Regions from separate parts of the Homo sapiens genome. Here all the other regions are reported to be linked to region 4. Evidence: microRNA targets listed by miRTarBase, many of them from high-throughput screens and not tested one by one. Region 4 holds a microRNA gene; each other region holds the end of a gene's coding sequence.

Region 1 (7,000 bases), not on the chromosome of region 4:
CACATGGGAATTGTAGGAGTTACAATTCAAGATGAGATTGGGTGGGGACACAGCCAAACCATATCAATCTGATTTCTTTTTGGCTGCCCTTTTGAATTTTGTAACTTGCATATTACTTTCTATAAGAAAAATAAACGTAGGCCGGGTGTGGTGGCTCACGCCTGTAATCCTAGCACTTTGGGAGGCTGAAGCAGGTGGATAACTTGAGGTCAGGAGTTCGAGATTAGCCTAGCCAACATGGCAAAACCGCATCTCTACTAAAAATATAAAAATTAGCTGGGTGTGGTGGCGTGTGCCTGTGATCCCAGCTACTCAGGAGGTTGAGGCAGGAGAATCACTTGAACCCGGGAGGTGGAGGCTGCACTGAGCCGAGACCGCACCACTGCACTCTAGCCTAAGTGACAGCAAGACTTCGTCTCAAAAAAAAAAAAAAAAAGCCCATAAAAACTTATGTTAGAATCTGTCATCTGGGTTAATCAAATAGTGGAGCCAAGCAGAGTAATGGGCTTAATATGGTTTAATGGATTCTCTTTGTTTTGAATTGTTAGCCTCTTAACTAACCAGAACCGTATGTGTTTTTCCTGCATTTGCTCTGACTTAGTCCATGACTTTCATCTGCAGGATGTGTCAGAACTAAGGAATGAATTACAGCGGAAAGATGCACTAGTCCAGAAGCACTTGACAAAGCTGAGGCATTGGCAGCAGGTGCTGGAGGACATCAACGTGCAGCACAAAAAGCCCGCCGACATCCCTCAGGGCTCCTTGGCCTACCTGGAGCAGGCATCTGCCAACATCCCTGCACCTCTGAAGCCAACGTGAGCAAAGGGCAGAGGCAGTTGGCCTATGAGTGGGCTGATGCGTGAGGTTGGCCACACATTCCTTCCTGTGGACTTGACATTTTGGAAGAACTCTTTGCCAGATAATGAGTTCATTTTAGTTTTATGCTCCCATTGAAAAATTTTCCACTATTTTTATAAGCTGTTAATTTCTTGAGTACTTTATAACATGTCTGTAGCTTGGATAAACCAAGTAAGTATTTTTTTTTTGTCTTTAGCAAAGTTTAGACTGTGAATATGATGACACAGATTCTTTTTTATGGTGGCTTTGCTTGTTTTAAATTTTTGCATGACTTTTCATCTTTTTATGTGTGTTTCCTGTAGTTTGATCCGAAGGAAAAGAGTATAGTAGCCTGAGAATCAGGAGATGGGAGTTTTAGTCGTAGGCCTTATGATAATTACCCCGCGGTGGTGTGTAGAAAAGTATGTAAATTTGCTCTGTTTTAAGACTTTGAACTACCTCAAGAAGAGGAATCTAATACAATATTTGTAATGTTTCCAGAGCTCTCAGAATGAGGATTTTTTTGTAAATAGGTCAGAAGACGATGGAACTGTCCTGGGTTAGTATAGTAATCTTACAGTAGGATCCTTAGGTTGATGCTGACTTCTGTTTGGGGTATGTTTATATTTTATGTGGTGTTTACTTTTTTTTTTTGACATAGAAGGATATAGTGGGAGCAGTGATACGCTAACATTCATTACATTCTGCAGTAATGAATCTGTTTAATGGGTCAGTCACTGTTTTCAGTAGCATGACAGTGGGGTCATAGGTGAGCTGTGAGGGGCTAAATCTTGCTCTGATTGTCTCTTTCTGTTTTGAGTTTTGTTTGCGTGTATCATTTTTGTTCTACATTTTGGGAGGGGAAACATTTTCCGTTAAGGAAGGTTGTTGCCAGTGGATTTGACTCCAAGGGACTAGAGTGTCGTGGTGGGGGTGGGGAGGGGCTGCAGGGTGATCATTGGCTACTGAGCCTCCACAGAGAGCATGTGGTGCCCTGCCTTTGGGAGGGTATTTTGCTCTCGTTAGTTTTGTGGGCAGCCTCAGATTCCCTGTTGAGTTGCTGTTAAGAAATGGAGATTTCTGGCTCTCATTGGGTAAGGTTTTCTGAGTTTTATATCTTATTAGATCACATCCCTTTACCCAGAACAAATGCTTCACTGTCTTCTGATTGGCAGTACTCCTGTGGCTTTGTGCCTTGACTCATTTTGTTGTCTTCAGCCTTGAAGGCCCCTTCCCACATGGACTGACATCCACTCATGTGCCTGATCCCTGAAGCCTCCCAGCACCCATTCAGTTGCATCCCCAGGGCACAGGACTTTGATCTCTTCTGTTGCCCTCGCTAGGTTCTCCCTGGTGGGTTAGTGCTTTGTATCTGTCTCTCTGCCCCTCACTAATTCTACACCCATGAGAATTAGACATTATTCTCCTTAAATATATAAGGACCATATAATCTGTATCTTTTTGGTGTGTGTATATGGTATCTGGCACATGGATCTCTGATTACCAGCCTGACATCAACAAATCCCCTCAGTTACAACGTATAGGTTAAACAAAGCTTTTAAAAGCTCATGTGGTATGACCTCAAGGTTGCTAACCTGGTCACTCATGGTAATTAGAAACTCTGATTGGCAGCTTTGTATTTCTTGACTAAAAACCTAAATAAACTGATTAGGTTTTAGGCGTTCTTTCAAAGAGGTTCTTGAGAAGATTGAGAACTATCCTATTTGGTGCTTAGTGAAAAGATTTTGAATTACTGTACGTACCAGTTGTTGCCATTTCTTTATTAAATTCAGAAGTTTTTTTGCCAAATAACAATTTTTCAATCTTCTCTGTTTGTAGACATCTTACTGGGTGATGAATAATCCTCTAAGAAACCCTCTGAGCTGCTAACTTTTTCAGGGAGAAAATCACAAGCCATCTTCTCAAGTTCCCCTAGAAACCTGTGGAATGCCCTCTGCCAAGCACTGCTCTGGTACTGGGGAGTGGAGTATTATGTCTTGGAAGAGACTCCTGCTGTGATTGTCCAGGGGTACGTTCTGGTCTGGCTTGGTGCTTGACCTTAGGTCTGCCCACAGGCTTCAGGCTTTCAACTTTGAAACAAACATCTGTGCCACACACATTTTGTAAATGATCCCATTCAGTCTTCTAGAAGCCTTATAACAGAATCAATATTGTTTTTCCCATTTTCACAGATGGATAATAAATCTGTAAAATAGGGATAAGACTAGGACCTATTCCCCAGGATTACTTCTGCAGATTAAAGGAGATGTTGAGGCCAGGTGCAGTGGCTCACGCCTGTAATCCCAGCACTTTGGGGGGCTGAGGCAGGAGAATCGCTTGAACCTGGGAGGCAGAGGTTGTGATGAGCCAAGATCGTGCCATTGCACTCCATCCTGGGCTACAAGAGTGAAACTCCGTCTCAAAAAAGAAAAAGGAGATGTTGAATGGGAAGTCAGCAAGGGTGCTAGAATGTAGCAAGTATTCTTCAGGTGTTAGTGATTTCTGTTGTTCGGGAAGAGGAGGGTTATGGAGGAAGAGTATGGGATTTAGGTGGGTTAAGTGATTTGCCCAAAGTCAAGAGGTTAGTCTTTAACCTTTGGCAGAAGCAGGATTTGAAGTGAGTTTTCACACCCCTCTTCCCTGGTCAGTGTGTTGATAACAGCCCACCCACCTGTGGTTCCAGGGTGTTCTTAAGAAGCCAAGGTTGTCTTGGGTGTGGTAGCTCTTTGAAAGGTAGAAAGTTCCACCAAGAAGGCCTTTTTTCTTGAATACTGCTTAGCTTCCTTGTCAGGCTCCAAGATGCAGATTGCCTGTGGGCTATCTCTCTCCACAGATAAACCTACTCACATCTTCAGGACAGCCTTTTTTTTTTGAGACAGGAGTCTTGCTCTGTTGCCCAGGCTGTAGTGCAGTGGCACAACGGGGTCCCACAGGCAAGTGCTGGGGAAAGGCCCACCCAGCCATCAGGTAGCCTGTGTGTTCTACAAACAGCAGCTGGCAGCACTGTCTCCTGCCGGACATTCCTGCCACCCGACATCAAAGCTGGTGGGTGACCTTTTCAGCCATTTGACATTCCTCCCAGAAGAACCTCTGCCTCCCAGAGGTTTAAGCAGTTCTCCTGCCTCAGCCTCCCAAGTAGCTGGGCTATTTTTTTTTTTTTTTTTTTGAGATGGAGTCTTGCTCTGTCGCCCGGTTAGAGTGCAGTGGTGCAATCTCGGCTCACTGCAACCTCTGCCTCCCGGGTTCAAGTAATTTTCCTACGTCAGCCTCCCGAGTAGCTGTCAGGTGCACACCACTACACCCAGATAATTTTGTATTTTTAGTAGAGATGGGGTTTCACCATGTTGGTCAGGATGGTCTCAATCTGACCTCGTGATCCGCCTGCCTCTGCCTCCCAAAGGGCTGGGATTACAGGCATGAGCCACCGCGCCCAGCCTTAATTTTTGTATTTTTAATGGAGATGGGGTTTTGCCATGTTGGCCAGGCTGGTCTTGAACTCCTGACCTCAAGTGATCTGTCCGCCTCAGCCTCCCAAAGTACTGAGATTACAGGCATGAGCCACCGTGCCCAGCCCATCTTCATCTTCTTTACTTGAACTTAATTCTTTTTCATGCATCTTCCCTTCTTTCCTCTTTTCTCCTCCACCCAAATGTCTTAACTGTTAACATTCCCAGGTGTTTGGTCCTGGGCCTCTGGAGGTTGTGAAGGAGCACTGCTCAGTCCTCCCTTCAAGAAAGCAGCTTCAAGGAGTTCAATTACAAAAGCTCCTGGCATTGGGGACCTGCCGCCATGTTCCTGCCCAGGGCATGCTGGTCCTGGCTGTCACCAAGCACAGTGGAGGTCAGGTGCTAGGCCATTTCTGCCCGACACAGGCCTCCTCTAATGAGCAGTCTGAGGCCAGGCACAGGAGGCTGAGGCAGGAGAATCGCTTGAACCCAGGAGGTGGACGTTGCAGTGAGCCGAGATCGAGCCACTGCACTCCAGCCTGGGTGACAGAGTAAGACTTCGTCTCAAAAAATAAAAAATAAAAAAATACTGAGCAGTCTGCTTGGGCGCTTCCATCAGCCTGGCCATGACATCTTTGGAGCTGTCCTGCCCTCTTTTGCCCCGGTGTTCCTTGGCCCACCTGTCAGACCTACATCATAGGCTCTTCCTGTCTTCTGTTTCCTCTCCCCTTTCTCTAACATAGGTGTTTCTCCTGAGAAAGAAAAAAACCACCTGTCCCTGACATTCAGAAGCTGACAACACTGTTCGGTCATGCCATTCTCCTGTTGGACATAAACAGTCTCTGAATGCCAACCCCAAAGTTGCTCTCAGGCCATGATAAAATAAACCACTTAATAATTTTGTCTAAGCACGTACAAAGAAAATTCAAGGTCAGTTTACCACTCACAAAATACCAAACATCCTTCTGCTGGTTAAAACGAGTGACAGCTGCCGTGTGTGTGTGTGTGTGTGTGTGTGTGTGTGTGTGTATGTGTATATGCGTATATATGTGTATGTATGTGTGTATATATATATGTGTGTGTGTATATATATATATGCAATTATACCTTTATCCCTACTCTAGTCCACCTTCCTATAAATAAGATGTATTGAGATGCTCAGTGCCCCCATTCTGACAGCATCCAATCGAGTGAATCCTCACTTCCTTGAAATCACCCAACCAGGGCCAGAATCCTAAAAGAGGTTCTTTGTGACACCCTCTGTCTGAGAAGTCCTATGGTTCTCTGTGATGAATAGACCCAACTTGTTCAAATACAGGCATTTCTGGTGGGCTTTGGCTGAAGGCATTCACACCCCCCAGTGAATGTCTTGCACTTCTAATTGTGTCTCGGGGCATGCCTGGTGGAGGACCTGACTGAGACAATTGTGACTGGATGTGGTCTGAGAGCAGGCAGTAGGATGAGGCTTGGGGACTGGCTCACTCACTGCCCAACTGGTAGCAAAACCCATCTGGAGCAGCGTGTGAGGTATGGACACTCACTCACACGAGGGGGTGGCCCAGTTGCTGAGGATTCCACCAGTGGTACCCTGGGAAAATATCCCTGTGGAGGGGAATGGGAGGAGTCAAACTGTGGAAGATAAGAGGAGTACTGCACACAAGGACAGTAGAGTGTCTGTTCCCTGCAGAGGGATAGTGAGGAACTGATGAGGTGACTGTGAGTGCCCGGGGCCTCTGTCGTTATCTTGGAGGATCACTTTGAGGTCAGGAGTTCATGACCAGCCTGGCCAACATGGTGAAACCCTGTCTCTACTAAAAATACATTAATTAGCATGGTGGCGGGTGCCTGTAGTCCCAGCTACTCGGGAGGCTGAGGCAGGAGAATCGCTTGAACCCGGGAGGCCGAGGTTGCAGTGAGCTGAGATGGCGCCACTGCACCCCAGCTTGGGTGACAGAGCAAGACTCCGTCTCAAAAACAAACACACAGTACTGCATCCTGGGGGTGGAGGTGAGGTGACGGTAGAGATCAGTGCTACCCTTGGAAATCTGACAGATACAGTAAGATGGTCCCTATCATAGTTCCATTTAATTTGCCAGCCTCATCTGCAGAATCCAGATGGATCCTGGAGAAAAATTAACCAAGTAGCCTCAATCACAAATGTTGGGTTGGATATTACATCAGTGTTAGAGCAGTTAAGGGCTCAGGTATGTGGTGTGCAGCCATTGACTGGGTGAATCCATTTTTACCTACCCCAATTACAAAACAGTTTGCTTTCATGTGGAACAGATAGTATTCCTTTCAGTTTTGCTGCAGGAACATATTAACTCTTCCACCCCTGTCATAATACAGCCTGAAGAGATTTACCATTAAATACTGTTTTTTTCTCTCTCTTAACTTAATCCCGAATTGGATAATTTCTCTTCATCTTCACTGTCACCTCTACGCCATCACTGTCATCTCTAGACCGCTCTGCTGTTGAGAGATTGATGGAATCATTATGCAAACTAAAATAGAATGTTTTATCTATCAAATTGTATTTCTTTGTCAATAGTGTTAGGGCACAGTAGGTTCATTTACTGCTGGTAAGGGTGTAAATTGTTAGAAACTTTCTGAATGGCAGTTTGGTAATAACAAACAAAAAGCTTAAGTTTGTGTCCTTAAATGCCTTACTTCAATACCCAAGGCATATGGCCTCAATAAAAAATTATGGAAGCATG
Region 2 (7,763 bases), not on the chromosome of region 4:
GCTACAAGCAGTAGGACCAGAGAGAAGCTGGGCAGAACTGGCAACATAATTTGCAGGGCCCAGTGCCAAAGGAAAATCATTCGAAAACTGTTTAGAATTTCGAGAGTGACAGCAGAGCATGAAACCAACCTTGGGAACCCTTGTAAGTGTGGGTCACAGGCACATGAAGCCAGCCCTGAAGTGTGGGCTAGGGAAAGCAAGCAGGGGATAAGGCCACAGGAAGGGCAGCCACAGGAGCCTTCTGACCTAATGGTCTGATCAAAATGAAGAGAACCCATAAACACAGGTGGGTAATCCTGAGACACAGCCAGGGCCACACTCAACCATTCCTAGTTGCACCACTGAGGCCTTTGTAGCTCTCCCAATGACCCAGTCCACCCCAGCCAAACAGCATTCTCCAAGAGTCCAGGTCTCGCCCTATTTGGAGGACAGAGGGCATTTAAATTTCATCTCTCTGTGTTGGGGGAGCTCTAAATGCTGGGAAAAGATGTCATGCCTGGAGACCATCTGGGGAAAAGGCCTCCGGAGCTGTTTCTTTAATTTACAGAACTGACAACTGAGGGTAGGGGCCTTTGGCAAGTACAAAGGGTGATGGCCCAGAAAAGAATCAAAGTATTAATAACGGGCTCGGCTGGCACTGGCCTCCTGTCCCCCGCCCTGGGGTTCATGTGGCAGGGAAGCCTGATGTCTCTGTTTCAACAGTGGGATCAAAACTGGCTTTCAGAGCAACATAAGCCAGGGGTAATTTTTAGCACAGACGTAACTTTCTAGTTCCTTTTTCCTACCCCTCATTTTTCGGTTGCCTTTAAAGAGGCCGCAGAGAACTGAAAAACAAATCCAAGTTTAAAGAGACAAGTGCAAAAATGCAAACTGGGCAAGGGGACAGAGCCGCCAGCTGGACAAAATGTGCCTGGAAAACAGCATCCTCTGCTTGGCAGGTGCCAGGAATTTATGGTTGAGTTTTGCAGACGTTTCATCACATTACAAGCCAGCTCAGGAGACCCTCATAAAACTCTGCTTATATGAAAGAACAAACTAGCTGATAAAAGTCAGCTGTTGCCTATAAACGCACTGTGGGAATTGCAATTGAGTAGCGGATTTATTAGTCTGGGCTCTCTGTGCAAATTAAGAACTGCTCCACACGTTTCAATCAGAAGAGATGAGCCAGAGCAGAAAGGGTTGCTCCCCGCTCACATGATGGCCAGCAGGCCAGGCTGACCCCCACCCCCATCACTTACTCTACTAGAGACCAGAGGGAAGACTCTCACTGAAATTAAGTCACAGAGGAGCTAGTCTCACATTCCCCTATCTCGCCTCCCACAAAAACCCACAAAAACAATCAGTCACTCTCTCCATCCACTGCATTCCCCACACATCCTTCACAATAGCACTTCTCACGAAGAGCTTGCAGATCTGCCTGGCCTACTAAATCATGGACTTCTTTGATTTACCTCTGTATTGCTAATGATGAGTTCTGTGCTGGGCACACTGGGAGGCCTCAGAATGAATGGATATGGATGCGACAGACTCTAAAGCCCCATATACATAAGTTATGACTATCCCACCCCAAACAGCATGGAGGGGCCAGGGGAGCAATGCCGAGGTACCCATTGGACTTGAGGACTGGCAACAAAAAGGGGAAAAGAGGTGCAGTGAGGGAGTTATGAAGGCGTTTCTTCCCCAGAGAAGTGCGGTCTTTGTGGCTAGTCTACCCAGCCATCAATCTCTGTGCTAACTGCTGCCTTTTCTCAGGATGAAGGCTCTTTCTTAAGGAATGACTCTGCAACTGAACTAAGGGTACTTATTAAGGATGCAGATATCTAGCCCCTCCCCACACATACTAGACCAGAATCTCTGGGCTGGGGCCCTACAGTCTCGGAAAAATGACTTTGCTCTACGTGGAAACCAAGAAGGAGCCTTCCAGGAAGGATGGGGAGGAGGACAGTGCCTGGAAGGGGTACCCCTGTCATTCCTTCAGAATCACTGGCTTTCTCCTACCAGGCCCTGGCATCAAAGGCAAAAGTGTAGGACTCTGGTAGACCACGCCAGGATTTGCTCCAACCCTCTTGGCTATGGGGTCAGAAGGAAGGGTAACTGGCAAGGTTGCGGCTGTCCTGGAAGAGGCTTGGATACTTCATGTGCCACGGCCAAGTTGGATGGAGGTAGCTCTGCACTGCAGGATCCATGTCCTGTGCAGGGCTGGGTATCAGAAAACCTCACCCTTGTTACAGCTGAGTAGATGTTAGGCATGCTCTTGCCTTCTGTGGCAGAAAGGCAACAGTGATGTGGGGGAAAGCACCTTTCACCGGAACCAAGCAAGCCCTGGTGCAAATTCTGGCAACATTACTGACAAGCTGTGGGCATTTAGAAAGCTTACCAGGTCTCTGTCTCGGTCTCCTCATCTACCTAATGGAAGTAAGCATACTTGTTTCAATTCTCGTTGAGGGTTTAGAAAGATATTAAAGAGCCTAGCACAGAGCTATACACTTAGTGAGTGACTAATAAAGCTTAAGTGAATTTCAATCCCTTAAATGCTCACAAATGTACCCAAAGCCCTCACTATCTCCTCTCGCTTAAACCTTACAACCCTGTAAGGACATATCATCACTTCCACTATACAGATGAGGAAATAGACTTAGAGGAAATTACTTGCCCAAGATCACACAGCTGGCTAAAGGCTGAGCCTGAGACTTGAACCCAGGTCTAGGTTCCTTCCTTCCCCTCATCCCCAAACCTGCTCCCTGAAATGTGCACTCTTCCTCCCTTCTCATAGGGAAATGGAATTATAAATGATCCAGTGTTTGAGCAGGTTGGGAAGGTACCTGGCTTCTCGTCCCAATTAAAGTCTGGTGTAATACAGTCCCCATAAAGCCCAGGCTCTCCTTGGGCAAGCAGGAGACCTTCTCTTTAGGGCCCAGGCACCCCAGCACCTTGAGACAACACTTACTCTGAGAGAAGAATCTGAAGGTCAGTTTCTAGATGTGGATGGGGAGGGACAGGATAGAGGGAAACCAAAATTCTTCATTTCATCCCAAGACTGTCTTACACTGACAGAGAAAGGGGTTCTGACCCAGCTGAGGGAAAACAGAACAGAACTCACATTGGTGTCTTCATCCATAAGCCAGTGGCATACATAAAGGAGGAGCACCAGAAGTATTCCCAGTGTGGTGACTCTCCCTGAATTCGTTTATCAATTTAGTGATTCTAGTAAAAAATACTGACAATTTATTTTTTGTTGTTGGAAGGTGATGGGGTTAGCTAAATGGAAAATTCCAGGTGGTGGAGGGGAGGCCTAATGAACAAGAGTGGGAGTACAGGCGGGTTGCTACTATAAAAACCAATAGGTATTAAGACTTTGGAAACAAATGTCCACCCTAAGGAGCTATTTTAAGTAAATTATGGTTTACCCACACAACAGAAATCTATGCAACTGTTTAAAACAATGTAAGGAAGCTCTTTATATAGAATGAACTCCAAGATACGGTAAGAAAGAACAAGGTGCAAAAGTGGGTATATGGTATGTTAGCATTTATATAAAAATGAAGGGAGGTTTTTTTGTTGTAGTGATTATCTATCGCTGTGGAACAAATGGCCCCCAAACTTAGTGATTTAAAACATTTATTATCCCAGTTTACATGGATCAGGAATCCGGGCACTGCTTAGCTGGCTGCCTTTGGGTCGGGTCTTCAAGAGGCTGTAGTCAAGCTGTCAGCAGGGGCTGTGGACCCATCAGAAGGTTCAACTGTGGGAGGGAGGATCTGTTTCCAAGTTCAGTCACATGGTTGTTGGCAGGCATTGGTCTCTCACATGAGCCTCTCCACATGGCTGCCTCACAGCATCGCAGCTGCCTTTCCCCAGGGTGGGTGATCCCAGAGAGAGAGAGAGAGAGAGCACCCAAGATGGAAGCTGCAGTCTTTTTTACCTATTTCAGAAGTGACATCCTACCACTTGGGTAGTATTTTATTCATCAGAAGTATATCTGTGGCCGGGCGCGGTGGCTCACGCCTGTAATCCCAGCACTTTGGGAGACCAAGGGGGGCAGATCACAAGGTCAAGAGATCGAGACCATCTTGGCCAACATGGTGAAACCCTGTCTCTAACTAAAAAATACAAAAATTAGCTGAGCGTGGTGGCACATGTCTGTAGTCCCAGCTACTCGGGAGGCTGAGGCAGGAGAATCGCTTGAAGCCGGGAGGTGGAGATTGCAGTGAGCCAAGATCACGCCACTGCACTCCAGCCTGGTGACAGAGCGAGACTCTGTCTCAAAAAAAAAAAAAAAAAGAAGTATATCTGTCAGTCCAGCCCATCTGGAAGGAGAGGGGAGTACACAAGGGCAAGAATACCAGAGGTGGGAGCACTGGGGGCTGTCTTTGAGGATACCTACCCACCACACTCACACAGGCATAGTATTTTTGGAAAGATACACTAGAAACATTCAATATTGGTTGCCTTCAGGGAAGGGAATTGGGAAACTCCCACCTCAGCCTCGCAGATAGCTAGGACTACAGGCACACACCACCACACCTGGCTCTTTTTTTCATAAAGACAGGGTTGTCTGGCTAGTCTAAACTCCTGACCTCAAGCCATCCTCCCACCTTGGCCTCCCAAAGTGCTCGTACAGGCAAGAGCCATTGTGCCCAGCCTAAATATGCTCTTGCATACCTATTTTACAATATTGATATATCACTTAAAAAATAAATCAGGCTTGGTGTGGTGGCTCATGCCTGTAATCCCAGCACTTTGGGAGGCCGAGGCAGGCAGATCACTTGAGGTCAGGATTTGGAGACCAGCTTGGCCAACATGGCGAGACCTTGTCTCTATTAAAAATACAAAAATTAGGCAGGCATGGTGGTAAGCACCTGTAATCCCAGCTACTCTGGAGGCTGAGGCAGGAGAATCGCTTGAACTTGGGAGGCAGAGGTTGCAGTGAGCTGAGATTGTGCCTCTGCACTCCAGCCTGGGTGGGAGTGAGACTCTGTCTCAAAAAAATAAATTTTATTTTAAATTTAAAAAGAACAATGAAAAATATGGCATTTTAACAGACACAAAGCTAAGAGGGAACAAAATAAAAACAATACTTAAATACTATATAGTTATTACTGAGCACCATAAACGTGCTTGTTTCTACTTAGCCATTACTTGCTTCTATGAGGGAGGTTTAAAAACCTCTTTATTACACATGCATACACATAAGCGAGCATCTCCCACTTGTAGAGCAAAATACAAACGCTTGAGCTGGGACTCATAATCCTCTTCACAATTTGGTTCCAGTCCACCCTTACTGACCCACTTCCTGCCATCCTTCTATCCATCTGTGAACTTGTTATTTGTGATACTGAACTATTATTTGCCAGTTGTGGAGGGTAAAGGCAACAAGCACAATGCCTGGCACACAGCTAGCTTTCGTCAAGTGTTGGCTTCCATCCTGCCTCAAACATGGCCTTTGTTTAGATTATCCCCTGTGCATGGAATGCCCCGCACCCCTCTCCTAGCCCCAGGTAAAATTCCCTTCAAGGCCTACCTCAAATGTCACTGTCATCAAGAAGGAGTTCCACAGGCAATTAGTTATCATCTCTATTCTCCCACAGCACCTGTTTTTACCTTAACTATAACACTTTTATTATTGTATTACAACTTAAGTCTCTGCAATCCAAAGTCTGGTCCTTGGACCATTAGCTGAGACTTCGTTTGAAATGCAGAATCTGGGCCCCATCCCAGACCTACAGAATCAGAATCCAAATTTTAACAAGATATCAGTGACTTATTTGCACATTAATCTTTCCCTGGTGGAACTGTGAGCCTTTCTAGGGCTCTCTTTTATTTCTGTCCCCAGAGCCCAACATAAGACTTGACACTTAAATGCTTTTTAAGTTTTATTTGCAATACTTATATGATAGATGTTTTTTAATTCCTGGAAAAATAAATACACATTATTAATAATAGTTATCTGGTAGATGGATAACGGTACATTTCTATGTAACATTTTCATTTTTTGTAATCAGAATGTATTACCTTTACAGATAGGCAAACACAAAGATTTGGGAAAATGCATGTAAAATCTAAGAAAAAAGGTAAATTGTAGATATAATACATTCACAAAAAGAATATAACTGTGTTGAGCTATATTTACAGATATAAAAAGATGAACAAATTACATTAGGTTTTTTAAAAAAAGACAACCTAACAGTATGTATCGATGATAGCACGTTTGTTCTTTAAAAAAATTTGTGAATTGGTCAGGAGCAGTGGCTCATGCCTGTATTTCCAATATTTTGGGAGGCTATGGTGGGAGGATCCCTTGAGCTCAGGAGTGAGCTGGGCAATATAGTGAGACCCTATCTATATTAAAAGAAAAAATTTGTAAATAGACACTGAAAAGGTATCTATCAAAATATCTCTAATGAAGTTTGTTTTACAATTTTCTACATTTTACATTTTTTCTAGTTTTCCTATGATCTTTATAAAAGCTTATCACTTATAAGAAAAAAAGTTATTTTCATTTTTGAAAAATATCTATACCCTTTACTAAGTCCCTTTACATTCAATGACCAAGATTCCCACAACACTCTGGGAAGCTGAAAGATCTGAAAGTAACACGGCCATTACATAGATGAAGGCAGCAGACCTTGGAAATGTAACCCCGATGGACTGACTCTGGGCTGGCATTCTCCCACCCCTGCGGCTACTCCAGACTCAGAGGAATGTGGCAAGTCAGATGCCAGCTTTGGCCAAAAAAACTCCTGTCATTTTAGGAGTCTCACCATGCCCAGTTACTTCCTCTGAGATGGTAACAGCAATAGGGGAACACTTCAAAGACAAAGCATTCAGAATGATTCATGCTGCACCACCTCCCCCTGGTGGCAGGTTCTGGAAATTGGCTTGAGGATAACTATTGCAATTGGTCAAAATTTTTAAAATATATTTTCTGTCAAAATCACCCTTATTTCTTTAAATCATCAAAACCACTTTTTCTTTTGTCAAGGATTCAGGTATTGACAAAAGACACAAAACCAGGACCTGGTGTCAACCAGACAATGCTTTGGATGATGCCAAGGGCAGTGTGGCTCTTTGCCTCTTGTCCTTGCTTCCCCACCTCTTTAGGTCCACAATAGAGGAAAGACACTATGTTCTTCAGCACCGTCTTTCCTGTTGTCTCTCTAGCTCCATCCACTTCCCTGAGCCTCAGAAAAGGGCAAGGCATGGCTCACATACTCTCAGCCACGGCCTGGCATGCTGCAGCTCCAAAATCAGACATCTAGGCGCTAATCCTCCCCAAGACCCAGTCCTAAGGTTCAAGGCACTGATGTTTCAAATATGTCAGACTGAAATACTGACGTTTCTTTAGAAACATCAGGGTTCAGAATGTCAGTCTTCAACTGTGGTACCCGTGGTCTCCAGATACGCATAGCTTCCTTACTCTTCCAGGAAGAAGGAAACATTCAATAGGATATCTGAAATAGGAAGACAGAAAAAATGGCATTATCACCTCTCCCGAGAACATAAAACACACAGAGGCACAGCAAGGGCACCTTCCTAATGCTTCCAAAGAGGCGAGCCACAGGGAGAGAAAGGAGGAGAGGAGACACAAAGGAAGAACACAAACCAGTACCTTGTACAAGATCTTGGTGTTCGTCTTTTGAAATTCGGTCCCAGGCCTTGGGCAAAGCTTGTATGTTTGCCAAGTCTCCCCACTGGATAGACGAAAGAAGATACTTTCTCTTCAGGTACCTTTCTGGAAGTTAAGGACTGCTCAAAAGAAAATG
Region 3 (7,922 bases), not on the chromosome of region 4:
CAGCAGAGCACATTTTTTTCTTGCATAGTAATCAGTTTTATTTTCTCCAGGCTTACCTTTTTTAAGTAGAAGAATCCGTGTTTCATTGAAGGCTATTAGGCAAACTGAACATTTAAATGTTATCCATGTGAGGGCTCTAGATCATGTAGGTGATTGATACAAATACGATCCATAAAAAAACTTTTATCTTTTGCTGGTATTTTCTTACAAAATACTTGGATCTGTAACATTTGAGTACTTACAGTGTACTAGCACTGTGCTAAGTATTCTTCCCTTATCTCAGTAGACTAGTTATTATGATGTACATTTTACATGTGAGGAAATGGAAGTTTAGTAAGGTTAAGCAGCCAAGGCAACATGCTGAGAATGGCTGATCTTTCTCAGATCCTGAGTTCCGTTCTCTTAACTTTTTGTACTATGGCCTTCACAATTCTGATAACCTAAGCATGTTTTCCTTGATAGTACTGAGATGTGAGTCTAGTACTTATCTCTACAGATCTAGCTTGGGGCCTTTGTCTTTACTCATTGGTGCTTCCAGATATATTTTAAAGAAGGCGGCATGATTAAACACACTTTGGGAATGAGAGGTAGGTTACAAGTTAAACTTCTGCAGAAGCCAGGTAAACAGAAGCCAGGTAAATCTGAGCCTCGAGGCTTCAGCTTTCTCTGTAAAAGGGAAATATACATGACCAACTTGAAATTGTGAAGATTCTTCCACATTTTATGGCTTGGGAAACAAAAGTCCAGAGCAAATGGTCTTTTTTCTAAGGTCCCACGGCTAGTGAAACTAAAATTAGGTCCTTGGTGTCTTCTCCAATTTGCTGTTCATATTAGTCCTCATTAGAAGTTTGTGGGGAATTCCTATCTATAGCCTTCACATTAGACCTCAATATCAGAGATTTTTGTGAGTCACTTAGCCTCTTCCCTTGCCTTTACTGGCCATCTGGGTTGACATTAGAAATGAGTCCTAAGGTGCTGTATAAAAACTGCTTTGTTGGTAAGAAGTGAGCTATAATGGGTTGTCCTGGAAGTTAACTCTTTCTCCACCTTTAGTTTTAAGCAAGTTCTCCTGCCATCAAGTATTTTCCAAATGATGAGAGTACTTACGGAAACATTTAAATGGAAAACCAATGAGAACTGAGAAAAATTAGGGAACTAGCTTCTTAATATATTGCCACACTGAAAGCTGTATAAATTCAGTATACTGAATATGTATGCCCCCCCGTAAAGAAAACCTAGTATCAGAAATGTCTAAAAATAAAATTTCACGCAGGCATAATGCTTCATTTAAAGGGTTAGAGGGGTTTTAGGTTAGAATGCAGAGTTCTGTTTCAATCATGAGAAATTCTATAAGGCATCTTTCTGTTGACAGTGACCTAAAAAAAAGGTTTTGCAGTTCAGAAGCTTGTAGTAGGTTCACATTGAGTGCACAAGAACCTCCAAACATGTTAAATCTGATGAAAATTTAGAACATGAATCAACAATGTCAAAGAACAGACTAAGCTTAAAAAAACAAAACCCTGTAAATTTTATGTAAACAAAGTAAAAAAAAAATTACAATGTAGAATGCTCTCCTAGGTTTTTGGTTATGTAAAGTATCCTGGAATGAGTAACCTTGAGTACCAGTTAACTTGAATGACCTAAGCTCTGGTTTTAGTTTTTGGACTGCTGTACAGTGTGCTGTTTATCAGCTTAGAGCCAACTACTGCCTTAGCAACAAGATATATATAGGAAGAGCTTCTATCCTGTGTCACCTATTATTCCTGACCCAATAATAGAACAGTCCAATGATATGGGATAATCTGTTATGGTTAACATTTGCTAACACCTTACAGCAGTTTCAGTTAATGAAATTTCAAATATATGTTTACATTTTTCTTTACAACCTGAAGACAGCCAAGTTAGCTGAAAAAGGAAGCCTAGAGGTTGAAATGTAAGCAACCAAGCAACAATTAAGTATAAATTGTTTATCTAGAAAAACTATTGGAAAATATTTTTAATGAAAATGGTCTCTAAAACTAGAAAATTAATATGTACATTTTACAGTTAATCCAATTAAGAGGGTACAAAGGGGTAAAAAAACTTTCCCAAAAAAAAAGAACATCCCAATCACTGAAATACAAAGAAATTCAAGAAGCTAATTAGTAGCATACTTAATAGTGGGGCTGTAAGACTTGTGAAAAATTACTTTGTCCTTGTTTGGAATATCTTATAGATTGCATTCAGCATAGTTGAAAATGTCTGGGATGGATACATATGTAAAACAAACACCACTTAAATTCAGCATACTCCTTATGAGAATACTTGGGCATTTGGTTAGGTGTTGCTCAGGGTCTGACATGTGACTAGACTCAAATTACTACTGGAAGGGCCTTAAAGATACCAACTAGGCCAGCCCTCTCTGGTTGGATAAAATTGAAACCATAGAGAAAAAGTTAATAGAGCTAAAATAGCAGCTTCTAATTCTGTACCATTACCTAAAGCATCTTTTTGAATTATCAAAGGAAGAAATAAGCAAATGGACTGTGGGAAATCATCTTACAAAACTAGAATATAGTTTTTCCAGGGGAATTTTTGTGTACCTTACCTCAGTACTGGAAATAATATTACAGAAGATACAGATGAATCTGAAATGATACACTGATAAACTTTTTAAAAATTTGTAATTAGACTGAACCATAAGAAACTGTTAATAGTTGATCATTTTTGAGCCTTACAAAAGTGGTAATTTCCTACTGTTCAGTGTAATGGACTTAAATCAGTTTTAACACCACTTGCTAACAGTCTGACTTTAGCAGATTGCAGTTACTGCTTTATTGCAAAAGCTCCTGAAATAAAACCCAAATACTATCAGAGATTAACATGGGTTATGAGCAACTACAGTCCATTCAAGTACACGTTCTAATAAAGAACTAAAATTAAAAAAAAAAATAAGGGGCTAGCAAATTCACTATAGCAGACAGATATTCTTAACGAAAAAGCGTAAGGGATCCAAATCGTGTAGCAAAGACAGGAAGACTGAGACAGTAACAAACATCCTTTTCTTTGAGATTTTTTGCCAAAACAGTAGATTCACAGTTCAAATCCAAGTTCCTTGAAACTTTACAGAAGAAAATCCAGGTGTAATTTTCCTTTACTGTAATTCTTAACCACCAATCATCTGTCCCTGGACATAGCCTGTTTTCCATGTTTATCTGTCCTTAGGCAACAGCCCATGAGAACACTAGTTGGTTTGAGCCTCAAAAGCGTAAATCTGTTTGCAGAGGATACAAATGGTGCTGTTTCCCAGTCCAAGATTTAGTTAACATACCAACTTCTATAAGACCCTCCTTAGGTTACAAAACGCTAGACACAGCTAACAGCAGCTACAAAAATACGTGACTTAGCACAACAGCAATGGAACCCAGCATCATCTCAGGTAAGTTTCTGTGAACTCACCAGTTTGATGTGCTGCTTCTAATTCCACATTAAAATACAAGATTATTTCAAAATAAAGATTTGTGTATTCCTATTACACTTTTGCCAATTATTTCTGAAGTGTTACCAGAGACACCATTTTGCACAAGTTGTAGCCCCCTTTAAGGCTTAACAAAGGTGATGCCTAAAGCAAGAATCCTAGGCCTCCCAAAGCTTCAGGAAAAGCAGGTCATTTTTGCCACCATATAATCTCAGCTGTTACTTCATGATTCCGTTCAGGTGTCATATATGAATTCACATATATATGCTGAAACATTGTTGCAACTGCACAAGATCTTCCAGAATACCTTTTTTTCCTTCTCTTTAAAGAGGGTCTCAGTGGCCCAGAACTGAGTTCAAATGATGCTCCCACCTCAGGCTCCTGAGTAGCTAGAACCAAAGACATAAGCTACTGTGCCAGGCTCCAGAATACATCTTTTGCTTAAGTGTCTGTTTAGTGTATAGTGGCAAGTTCTTCCCATAGCAACATCTCACCTAACTAGGATAGCAGCCAAAAAGACGGAACCCTCTCAAATACATTTAAAAGGCTACCTGAATTAATGGCTACCCTTTGGGGAGTGGGGCTCTCTAAAAAAACAAATGCGTATTTATCACAATTCTGCACTACCTATATTTTTTAAAGGACAAGACATTGGGTTTAGTCATTTGTAAAGTAATGAACTTAGTGTGGTTATTGCTAGAATGAAGAATTGGTTCAGCTATACTCACTCTTTTAAGATTTTGTTTCTTCCATTCCCATTGAAACCATCTTTATGGAAAAGGGATGTTTAATATATCTGACTATTCTATGTGGGAGAAAATGAAAAGTCTTTTTTTTTTTTTTTACACCATATTTACCAATTTGGCATTAATTAAAATTCTTCTAATACCTTATAATTTTTAACCCAATTATGTAAGAGAACTGAGACAATTTAACCTGTTGCTAGCTTTGATCGATTTAAAAAAACACATTTGTGGGTAATTTTTTTAAATATCAGGACATGAAATTACTTGATATCTTTATATATAAAGGACAGGAGTTGCACTACTCACACCTTACTTTAAAATTCTGTTACCAAGAACCAATCAGAAGGCCTCAGGAAAAAGCACGTAATACCAGCACATTTTAACCTTAATCAGAATAATTTGAGGGCTAGGGTTATATATACTGAACTGGCACATTGTACATTTTTAACTATACCCTGAATTATCCTTCAGAGCATATAAATTAAAATCACATTTTTATGCACATAAAAAATTAACACAAACTATGCACACAACACTTTTCATATGCCAAGTGATAACAAAGGGCTGTCATTCTTGTTCAGTGGTCCATATAATATTGTGGAACAAAGCCTTCCCCTATGTCTAACAATTACTTGACCTCACAATTAGCTGTACTAACTGTTGTCCATTGTTAAACTTCATGTCTTTATCTTCATAAAAATTAAGCTCTGGCTAAAATATATACATAAAGTTTAATAACTGATTTTTGGTCACTGATATGAGAGCCTTCAAAATAAGTTGAGAATGAATAAAGCAAATCATTGGCCTATTATTTAAAAATTGCTTGTCATCCCTTCTATCCCCCATTGTCTTCCAAAGTTGCCTTTGATTAGAATTTTGTTAGGTTTTTTTGCTAATTATCACATGTATTATTAATTACCTATGCATCTAACAGCCTAAACTTGTGTAAAGATTTCAGATGATTCATTACAAAATGATTAAATGGCCAACTGACATTTTAATGCTATTTATGAGCAAGTATAAATGCTTTTTAAAAAGCAAAGTATACTATCCTAAGCCTATTAATAGCTCCAACTATTTTGCAACAATTGGTGTAAAAAGTAGAAAGTTAAAAAAATTCAGCAAATGGAAGATCAAAGTTTATTTACTACCTGCATACAAAAACATATTGCACATCAAACAACCGAAATAAAAAAAAAAAAAAGGAAAAAAAAAAGATACTCTACTGAAGACTAACATGTAGTTTATACAGAATAAACCTTCTGGAAATTGATCTTTTCAGTAGTTCAGGTTATGTCTGAATGGACATGACTAATTCAGCTTAGTGTTTTAACTAAAGCTATGTTTGATTTTTAAATACTGTACACTTTAATAAATAAACCAAACAAAGCCTCAAGGTAGAACAGTCACTGCCAAGTATCGCCCAGTGTCCCTGCAGATGAGAGTTTAACAAATGTATTCCAGTGGTCTGCAGATTTTCCTCTACATACAGCATTTAAAAAACACATTAAAACAGACCAGTTTCCAGACTAAACTAATGAAGAAATTACAATTCAGTGCAAAATATTTTAGACTGCATTTCATTCTAGTTTTCCTCAGGTGAAGAAGTGGTTGCATATTAAAAATGTAACAAAAGCAGCTAATGCTTTCATAAAGAATATTACGTTAGGGATCCCACCCCACCCACCACCCCCCATCTCTGCCATATTTTGAAAACAAAATAACATTTCCTATAGCCAGCAACTTTTTTTTAATGTTACATATACTATTCTCAAGGCACATCTGATGATATATTTTATAACACAGTAGGTGTCAAAGTATGTTTAACATATGATTTCTTCAGGATCCCTCCCCTTTTTGAATTCCAAATGGAGGAACTGAAAGTGCGATGTAAAGACTGGCGATCCATATTCTATCTTTGGCAAGCTTGTACAAGCACTATTGTAAATGTAATGTAAAAGAACTGTAAACTAGGAACTTCTTCAGTTTATGAAACACCATTCAGGACTGCTGCTTCTTGAGTGTTTTCTTCTTTTAAGGTATTAATCTTTTCTTCTCCTGGAGTACGCTGTAGCTTAGAAATGTCATCGCCAGAAGCACTAGTTGGGCCGTTTATTGCCTTTTCTGAAGGACCATGCTCTTCAATCACATCTTTTGCCTGCCAAAGGGAGACAACTTTTTCAACTTCTTTATAAATGAAATCTATAGCTGAGGAGGAAAACAGCTACATAAACACTAATTAGCTAATTAAAAATTTCAGTTTTATATACCACAATGGATCAAAGTATTAAAACATCTTTAAAATTCAAAACAAATAACAAAGTATTCCACTCTATGGGTCTTTCAACTTTGTATCTCTAGTACCTAGCAGTGCCCAAACCACAGAAAACATCTAAACTAATGAAAACTGTACCTAATTTTAAAACACTGGAAAGCTCACCATGAAAATGACATAAACAGTTAATATTAAACAAATAATCACCTACTTTACTCACCTTATTTTGAGAAATCACATTTACATATCAAATACTGTAAAGCATTTAAAAGAACTAAAATTTAAAAGGTCTATATCCATCAATGAGAAGAGGTATATAGCCTATTGCTCCTGAATTAGGCAATAGTCTCTATGCCCAGTATCTTTGGGCAGAATGAATTTTATAAATGCTATTTGAAGCTCTAACTAAAAAGTATTTCAGGCTCAAGCATGCATATCTTTAGTTACCTGGGGCCAAGAACATATTCAAGAGTCTTTAACTAAAATAGTATTGTCTATTTGTGGAAACAAGTGATCACACAGTAAAAGTAGTAAAAAAATAAAGCTAAACCATACCAAAAATTAAAAAAAAAAAAAACCTACAGGTTAAATTCTCCTTACCATTTCTTTCTTGTTTTTAGCCAAAGTTTCCCTTGGGAGGTTTCTTTGTCTGCTCTGAGACTCAGCTCTAGAAATATAATCTGCAACTGTGACTGTTAAAGATGAGAAAAAAATTACAGGTGTTGAAAAAATATTTCTAAAGTTTATTTATGGATAAAGGGTAATTTCACTATTAAACTAGTGGTGGGTCACCCAGTGTCAAAATTTTCTTAAGCTGGGTATCACCTCCAACCAAAAACAAAGCTTTAAAAATCTACCTGGGCTTTTGGTGCTGAAGAAAATTTCAAGCTTGAGATTGAGGAAATCTAGATTAAATTCCTCTTTCCCAAGAATCCAGCTATTTGCTTCTGGTTGACCCTAATGTTGTGGAACAAAGTTGTTAGAGAAACCCACAACCAGTAAAAGGAAATACAAACGCAGTGTTCTAAGCCCAGTGTTTGCAATTATCGGGGAGTCGGGGGGAGGGGGGAATGGGGCAAATTTGGTCCAAATCACAGTATGATATACTTAAATTTGAAAATTTCAGATACAAAAATATTTACTCAAATGTGTGTGTGTGTTTTTTTTTAAAGCACAATTAAGATATCCAAGTGTGGTTTATTCTATGGTTTTGTTTTAACGTTTCACACTAGAAACGATTCTGAGTGATTAAAATAAGAAACTACAAGCAAACTAAAGATGACAGACCACCACCCTAAAAATGTGGACATTGATCAGAGTGGGAAAAGGTCCAGAGTGTATTCAATGACACCCCTCCCACACCCCCTTTGCCAATCTTGGTAGGGACGATCTGAAATGTGTATTTGCAAAGAAGTGGCAGTAGTGGATTAGGAAAAAGACTAAA
Region 4 (7,922 bases):
TTATCTGACTTCAAACTATACTATAAGGCCATAGTCACCCAAACAGCATGGTACTGGTATAAAAATAGGCACATAGACCAATGAAACAGAATAGAAAACCCAGAAATAAAGCCAAATACTTACAGCCACTGATCTTCGACAAAGCTAACAAAAACATAAAGTGGGGAAATGACAGCCTATTCAACAAATGTGCTAGGATAATTGGTTAGCCACATGTAGAAGAATGAAACTAGATCCTCATCCCTCGCTTTATACAAAAATCAACTCAAGATGGATCAAGGACTCACATCTAAGACCTGAAACCATAAAAATTCTAGAAAATAACATCAAAAAAACCCCTCTAGACATTGGCTTAAGCAAAGACTTCATGAGCAAGAACCCAAAAGCAAATGCAACAAAAACAAAGATAAATAGATGGGACTTGATTAAACTAAAAAGCTTCTGCTCAGTAAAAGAAATAATCAGCAGAGTAAACAGACAACCCTCAGAGTGGGAGAAAAGCTTCACCATCTATACATCTTACAAAGGACTAAAATCCAGAATCTGCAAGGAACTCAAACAAATCAGCAACAAAGAAATACAATCCCATCAAAAAGTGGGCTAAGGACATGAATAGACAATTCTCAAAAGAAGGTATACAAATGGCCAACAAACATAGGAAAAAAATGTTCAATATCATTAATGATCAGGGAAATGTAAATCAAAACCACAGTGTGATACCACTTCACTCCTGCAAGAATGGCCATAATCAAAAAATCAAAAAACAGTAGATGTTGGTGGGGATGCGGTGAAAAGGGAACACTTCTACACTGCTGGTGGAAATGTAAACAAGTAAAACCGCTATGGAAAACAGTGTGGAGATTCCCTGAACAACTAAAAGTAGATCTACTGTTTGATCCAGCAATCCCACTACTGGATATCTACCCAGAAAAAAAGAAGTCATTGTACAAAAAACATACTTGCACATGCATGTTTATAGCAGCACAATTCACAATTGCAAAAATATGGAACCAGCTCAAATGCCCATCAATCAACGAGTGGATAAGGAAATCGTGGTATATATATACCATGGAATACTACTCAGCCATAAAAAGGAATGAAATAATGGCATTTGCAGCAACCTGGATGGAACTGGAGACCATAATACTAAGTGAAGTAACTCAGGAATGGAAAACCAAACATCGTATGTTCTCACTCATAAGTGGGAGCTAAGCTATGAGGATGCAAAGGCATAAGAATGACACAATGGACTCTGGAGACTTGGGGGAAAGGGTGGGGATGGGTAAGGGATAAAACACTGCACACTGGGTACAGTGTACACTGCTCAGATGATGGGTGCACCAAAATCTCAGAAATCACCACTAAAGAACTTATTCATGTAGCCAAACACCACCTGTTCCCCCAAACCTATGAAAATAAAATAAAGGAAAAAAGCACAATGCCCCCACAGAATGCTGGCCATTCAACACAATAATAAATATATGTTAGCTGATGTCAGTTGTTCAATTTCTCCAGGTAAAATAATACTTTTCAAAACAATACACACATTTCCCAGAACCTAATTTCCCACCATTGGCCATTCCTGGGGTTCCCCATAGGACCCTCTCCACACACTCCTGCATTCTTCTTAGGCTGGGGTCCATATGAACAGGATGTGGTTCTCCATGACTTCTGTTTTTCTCTTTCTAGTGGGGCTTAAATGGTACAATCTTTTATGATTTACATTCCATTTTTCAAGTACAAAGTGAAGTTTCTTCTAGTTAATAAGTCCTGTTTGAAGAGTAAGAGTTCTGCATACAAAGTACATGTTTCACTCTCATCGGAAACCAAGTTCTCAGAGGAGTTAATCTGTAGCTAATTCAACAATTGCAGAGTCACTAGCTTTGTACACCAAATACTGTCACCCGGGAGACAAGGGGTGAGAAACAGCAGGCTCCAGTCTCCCATTAAAGCTATATTAAAAAAAAAAAAAAAAAAAAGGAAGGAAGGGAGGGAGGGGCATATTTTAGTCCAGATACATTGGTACAGCCTAGATGCCCAATTCCTAAACATCTGTTAGTGAAACTAGTTACAGATGATGTTGACGAGCAAATCGTAGCCTTAAGAATTATCTCAAGACAGGACAGATCTGGCTCACACAGCCAGGTCTGAATGACTAACCCTTTAGGAAACCTCTCACCAGGGAATTCTGGCTGTGCCGAAAGGCCCTGCGAGGTTCCACAGAGCAGTATTTTCCTCCCCAGAGGAGATGGCATCATGGGTTTTCTGCTGAAGGAAAAACGCCCCAGTGGAGGCCAAGGGAAAAAGCTTAGAGCAGACACTCTCCTAAAGGATTCCACCCTGGCTGAGAGTGGACACTTTTCTAAAGAATTCCACCTGAGCCAGGGCAACAAGCAGGTTCAAAACTGGCTTTTGAAACTCAAAGCCACTCCGTGAATCTCCAACCTATCTTGGTGGGAACTCATGGAGACAGATCCAGAGAAGAGATCCGACCTCTCGCTTAAGAAGTGTGAACCATGACAAGGGTGGTGCAGCCCACGGTCCCCATCACAGTGAAGGCATCTAAGAGCACAGAGAGACAATTGTGACTGGTCTGGTCCGGAAGGCTTCATGTTTGCGTAACACTGGAGCGAGCTTGAGAGATGGTCAAGATTTTTGACAGGTAGGGAAAGAAAAGGGTACAGGGAAAAAGAGTAGTAGATGGAGAGAAGAGAAAGTTATTTTTGTTTGCTCCAGTGGGAAGAGACAGACACATCATGAAAGATCCAGCAGGAAACACAGACTGACCCCCAAATACAGAAGGCCTGGAGCACCAGACTCAATGGTCTGACCACATTCCAAAGGCAATGGAGAGCCACTCTTTAATGGAGAGAACAAGATGATCAAAGAAAGCTACATGATTAAATTGGCTTAAGTAATACATGATGGATGAGAAGAAGTGGAGAGAAAAGGCTGCTGCAACTGTCCAGAGATAAGGCCACGGGGCCCAACACAGGATTCAGAAGAAGGAAAGGAAAGGAAGGGAAAGATATGAGGAATGCTATGCAGGACTCTGTAACTGCAGACCCAGGAAGTGGAACAAGAAGAGGAATGCTCCCCTCATCCTGCATCAGCCACGATGCTGTTCCCTGCCCATACCATGCTGTTCCACACCCACAGCCTCACTCAGGCGCCTTCCGAGGACTCCTCGCGCTCCCACACCCACCCAGCCAATTGTTTCTTGCTCTTTGAAGCTCTGTTCAATTTCTCGGTGAAAGCCCCTTCCCTGGAGCAGACACACTTCCCTATGCCCTTGAAGCATATGGCACTTCTTAAAGGGCTGCTGTCTTCTGCTCGTGCCTCTGGGCACCCACTAGACTGCACATTCCCCAGCACAGGGCTCATGTGCTATGCGTCTCTACCCACCGTGTTCACATAGCACCTGAAAACAGTCAATCGAGTGTAGAGCTTCAGCTTGTTGTCTCTAAAGTCAAACTGAACTGGTGCAAATCATCACAGAGGTAAAGTAACTTCCACTTGGCTACTTACTCCCTGGGTGGCCCTGTGGAGGTCAACTCACCTCTGCAATGGTCAGGTTTCTCAGCTGTTAAAAGTGGGTCATCGGTCTCGGTGCAGTGGCTCATGCTTGTAATCCCAGCACTTTGGGAAACTGAGACAGAAGTATTGCTGGAGCCCAGAAGTTCAAGACCAGACTGGGCAAACTAGAGAGACTACATCTCATCTCTACAAAACTTTTTTTTTTTTTTTGAGATGGAGTTTAGCTCTTGTTGCCCAGGCTGGAGTGCAATGGCACGATCTCGGCTCATAGCAACCTCCGCCTCCCGGGTTCAAGCGATTCTCCTGCCTCAGCCTCTCGAGTAGCTAGGATTACAGGGATGCACCACCACGCCCAACTAATTTTGTATTTTTAGTAGAGACGGGGTTTCTCCATGTTGGTCAGGCTGGTCTCGAACTCCTGACCTCAGGTGATCCATCCGCCTAAGCCTCCCCAAGTGCTGGCTGCCTAAGCCTTCCAAAGTCCTGGGATTACAGGCGTGAGCCACTGTGCCCAGCCCTACAAAACATTTTTTAAAAAATTAGCCAGGCAAGGTGGTGCATGCCTGTAGTCCCAGCTACTTGGAAGGCTGAGGTGAGAGGATCGCTTGGGCCCGGGAGGTCGAGGCTGCAGTGAGCCATGATGGTGCCATTACACTCCAGCCTGGGCAATAGTGCAAGACCCTGTCTAAAAATAAATAAATAAATAAAAAGCAGACTATCACAATACCTTCCGTGCAGAGTTGCTGTGAGGATGTAAGATAATGCAAATATAAACGCTGGCAGCTGTGCTTGCCTAATAAATGTTAGCCAATATTACTGTTAGCATTGAATACCAATTTGTTGACTGCATGGATGATTGGATGAATAGGTGGAGATTCCATCTTTGATTTTTTACGTAGATAACTGGGATCCTGGGAATGACATTAGCAAAGGTAACAAGGAGGACACCACGTGGGTGGGGAAGGAGGAAAATGGGCATAATCTTGGAGGGGCTGAGTTAACGATGTCAGCCAAGCATCATACCCCGTTATGGGGCATTGGCCGGAGTGGGGTTTAGGTCTCCAGAAGTCTCATGAATAGAACCCCTAAGACAATCTGTAGCAGGAAGAGGGAGTGAACCAATCGAGAACTGGTGGCTTAGCAGCAAAATACAGACAACAAAAGAGAAAGACAGAGACTTTTTGAAAACAAAAAAAAATCTCCTATTTGATCATTCCGAAATAGCCATGATATAGTAATAATGGCAGAAACAGAACTTTGTTGGATCTCTTTACATTTATTATATGGTTTAAAATGCTTAATTTAGTTCTTTAAATAAAGAAGAAAAGCAATGTGCTCTGCAATGTTTCAGTGCTTTGGGCCTGTAACGATCTGAATCCAGAACTGGGTAGATCCAGGCTGGAGGCCTAGAGGGAGAGGTCAGATTCAGAACTGGAGGTGGCAGGTGTTAATCCACCAAAGGGCTGGAGGCATAGTTCCTAGTGAGAGACCTGCAAGCCTAGAGCTGGAACTGGGCTGGGAACCCAACACGGCGACATACAGAACCAGCCAGGAATTTTCGCTGTGTGTCCGGGGACCTCCCCTGGGCTTGTCCTGGCTTGTGTTATTGGCCGGGGGGACTGCAGCATACATGGGTGAGTGACCAGAGGGCTTCAGCATACAGAGTCAAGGTGGCCGTCACCTCCTGCAAGTGCCCCAGCCTGGCACATATTAACAAAGGCATCCCAGTCCGTGCTAGAAACCAAGATGCACGTGAAAGTGTTCTGGAACTGGTTCCACGGCCTCTCTCCACCCCTTTCCCCAGGCTGGGTTTTGGGGCTCTGTGTCACTCGCAGAGATGTGGTTCCTTTTCTGCCAGACACTCCAGCTCTCCATTCTGAGATAGACGGCATGCAGGTGTGCTCACTGACTGACATGCACAGGACCAAGCCAGACACCAGCATGGATTTGTCTACAAAGCTCTAGAAATACAGAGCCGAGTCTCCAGAACGGCAGTACCAGGCCGTGGAACCGGGCCGCACACCAGGAAGGTGAGTGGTAGGCAAGTGAGCATTCCCGCCTGAGCTCTGCCTCTTGTCAGATCATTGGTGGCAAAAGATTCTCATAGGAGCATGAACCCTATTGTGAACTGTGTATGCAAGGAACCTAGGTTGTGTGTTCCTTATGAAAATCTAATGCCTGATGATCTGTCACCATCTCCCATCACCCCCAAGTAGGACCATCTAGTTACAGGAAAACAAGCTCAGGGCTCCCACTGATGCTACATCATGGTGAGTTGTAGAATTATTTCATTATATATTATAATGTAATAATAATAAAAATAAAGTACACAATAAATGTAATGCACATGAATCATCCTGATATCATCACCCTCCCCCTCCTCCGGTCAGTGGAAAAACTGTCATCCATGTAGGCAATCCCTGGTTCCAAGAGGGTTGGGGACCACTGCTCTAGAATAATAGTCTCCAAACTGTGTTAACTATGTGCCCCCTTCAGTACAAAATACTCAGGTACAAAACCCCCAAAATAGATACATTAATTTATAAATTATAACAGAGATACCACTGCACTCATATCTTATGTAAATTTAAAACTTACACAGCCTTAAAACTTTAAATAATTCGATCAAAGAAACAACATAAATAAACTATTTTACTTAGGAACAATGCAGTTCACATTTTTGCTTTCACTAGAAAAATGTTATGAATAAGAGAGTATTTTAAGTGAGATCAATGAAACTGAATATTTCATTTGTATTTGTATTGTTACTAAATTGTTTTATCCTTGTAACATGACTGACAAAGAACTCCCAGGAGCAGAAATCTGAGCTCTTTCATTATCCTCTTGTGTGCTTGCGCTTGCATTTTTAATATTATCTTCAAGCCATGGTTTCCTTCCAGGAATCTTCTTAAATTCTTGGTCTATTTTGTGAAGGTTGGTTTAGGTAACACTAGGGGATACAACCCACAAATCCATTTAACCAGCCACATGCAAACCACCACTGTCTTCTTAAGCTCAAGGCAGAGGAGCGCGAATTCTTGGGGGGTCCACGGGTCCCTGGGAATGAGTCACAGGCTTGTGACTGTCTGCCTGACAAACTGTCAATCCAAAACAATACTCATGATTCTTAACTTCCTCCTCATTCTAAAAGATCAAATTATAAGTGGAAGTGCTACCATTTTCTTTCTGCATCCCAATGGACCATCTTGTCTACCCACTTTGGAGACCACTGCTTTAGAGAGACATGAAGGCTGGAGATTTTGCCCTGGACGTCCTCCAAATTAAAGTGAGAGACAAACCAAGGGGGATTCCAGAGATGGACATTTGGAAAGCAAAGGAGACAGGATATCAAATTGTTTTAAATGTCCCCAGCTAAGAAACAGGAGTGATGGCTGGGTGTGGTGGCTCACACCTGTAATCCCAGCACCTTAGGAGGCCAAGGCGGGTGGATCACAAGGTCAGGAGTTCAAGATCAGCCTGGCCAACATGGTGAAACCCCATCTCTACTAAAAATATAAAAATTAGCCGGGCCCGGTGGCAGGACCCTGTAATCTCAGCTACTTGCGAGGCTGAGGCAGGAGAATCGCTTGAACCTGGGCAGCAGAGGTTGCAGTGAGCCAAGATCGTGCCACTACGCTACAGCCTGGGCAACAGAGTGAGACTCCATCTCAAAAAATAAAAAGAAAAAGAAAAAAGAAAAAAATAGGAGTGATAGGGGTTGGATCCGTGTCCTCACCAAATCTCATGTTGGATTGTGGTCCCCAGTGTTGGAGGTGGGGCCTGGTGGGAGGTGATTGGATCATGGAGGGCGGTTTCTCATGAATGGTTCTGCACCATGCCACTGGTGTTGTTCTCCTCATAGTGAGTTCTCGTGAGATCTGGTTGTTAGAAGCGTGCAGCATCTCCTCCTTCACTCACGCTCCGGCTCCTGCTCCTGAGGAGCATGTGAGACACTTTGCTCCTCCTTCTGCCATGATTGGAAGCTTTCTGAGGCATCCCCAGAAGCAGAAGCCTCTATGTTTGCAGTACAGCCTGCAGAACCATGAACCAATTAAACATCTTTTCTTATAAGTTACCCAGTCTCAGGTAGTTCTTTATAGCAGTGTGAGAACAGACTAACACGAGGAGGAAGAAGTCAGCAAAGGAGGTAAGAAAGAATCCCAGGCCAGATGCAGTGGCTCACACCTATAATCCCAGCACTTTAGGAGGCCAAGGTGGGTGGATCACTTGAGGCCAGGAGTTCAAGACCAGCCTGGGCAACATGGCGAAGCCCCGTCTCTACTAAAAAAAAAAAAAAAAAAAAAAAAAAAAATTAGCTAGGCGTGGTGGTGTGCACCTGTAATCCCAGCTACTCAGGAGGCTGAGGCATGAGAATCGCTTGAACC

Evidence for each region. The annotated mature microRNA hsa-miR-4480 reads AGCCAAGUGGAAGUUACUUUA and lies in region 4 at 3,502-3,522, opposite strand. An mRNA with a match to its seed (bases 2 to 7 or 8) in the 3' UTR can be bound and repressed. Matches are read on the target gene's strand: a 7mer-m8 pairs with bases 2 to 8, a 7mer-A1 pairs with bases 2 to 7 and ends in A, and an 8mer does both.
Region 1: miRTarBase lists MED28 as a target of hsa-miR-4480. The part of its 3' UTR that is shown has no 7-base or 8-base seed match.
Region 2: the mRNA of AIRIM is a reported target of hsa-miR-4480. Seed matches in the 3' UTR shown: 7mer-A1 at 7,048-7,054.
Region 3: the mRNA of FXR1 is a reported target of hsa-miR-4480. Seed matches in the 3' UTR shown: 8mer at 5,614-5,621, 8mer at 4,748-4,755 and 7mer-m8 at 1,896-1,902.

The regions. Positions count from the first base shown.
Region 1 is chr4:17,622,980-17,629,979 of GRCh38, forward strand. It overlaps MED28 (mediator complex subunit 28), which reads left to right. Exons shown (of 4, transcript NM_025205.5): 4 at 622-7,000. The coding sequence ends at 819. It overlaps FAM184B (family with sequence similarity 184 member B), which reads right to left. Exons shown (of 18, transcript NM_015688.2): 18 at 6,327-7,000. Among named protein-coding and RNA genes, the nearest start is that of MED28, 12 kb to the left of the region's middle.
Region 2 is chr1:37,675,710-37,683,472 of GRCh38, forward strand. AIRIM (AFG2 interacting ribosome maturation factor) reads right to left here. Exons shown (of 5, transcript NM_001350770.2): 4 at 7,610-7,728; 5 at 5,861-7,451. The coding sequence ends at 7,414. Among named protein-coding and RNA genes, the nearest start is that of AIRIM, 11 kb to the right of the region's middle.
Region 3 is chr3:180,974,561-180,982,482 of GRCh38, reverse strand. It overlaps FXR1 (FMR1 autosomal homolog 1), which reads right to left. Exons shown (of 17, transcript NM_005087.4): 16 at 7,079-7,170; 17 at 1-6,361. The coding sequence ends at 6,191. Among named protein-coding and RNA genes, the nearest start is that of DNAJC19, 11 kb to the left of the region's middle.
Region 4 is chr10:12,574,396-12,582,317 of GRCh38, reverse strand. MIR4480 (microRNA 4480) reads right to left here and starts at 3,565; the gene lies at 3,495-3,565. The region is part of intron 2 of CAMK1D (calcium/calmodulin dependent protein kinase ID); the gene reads right to left.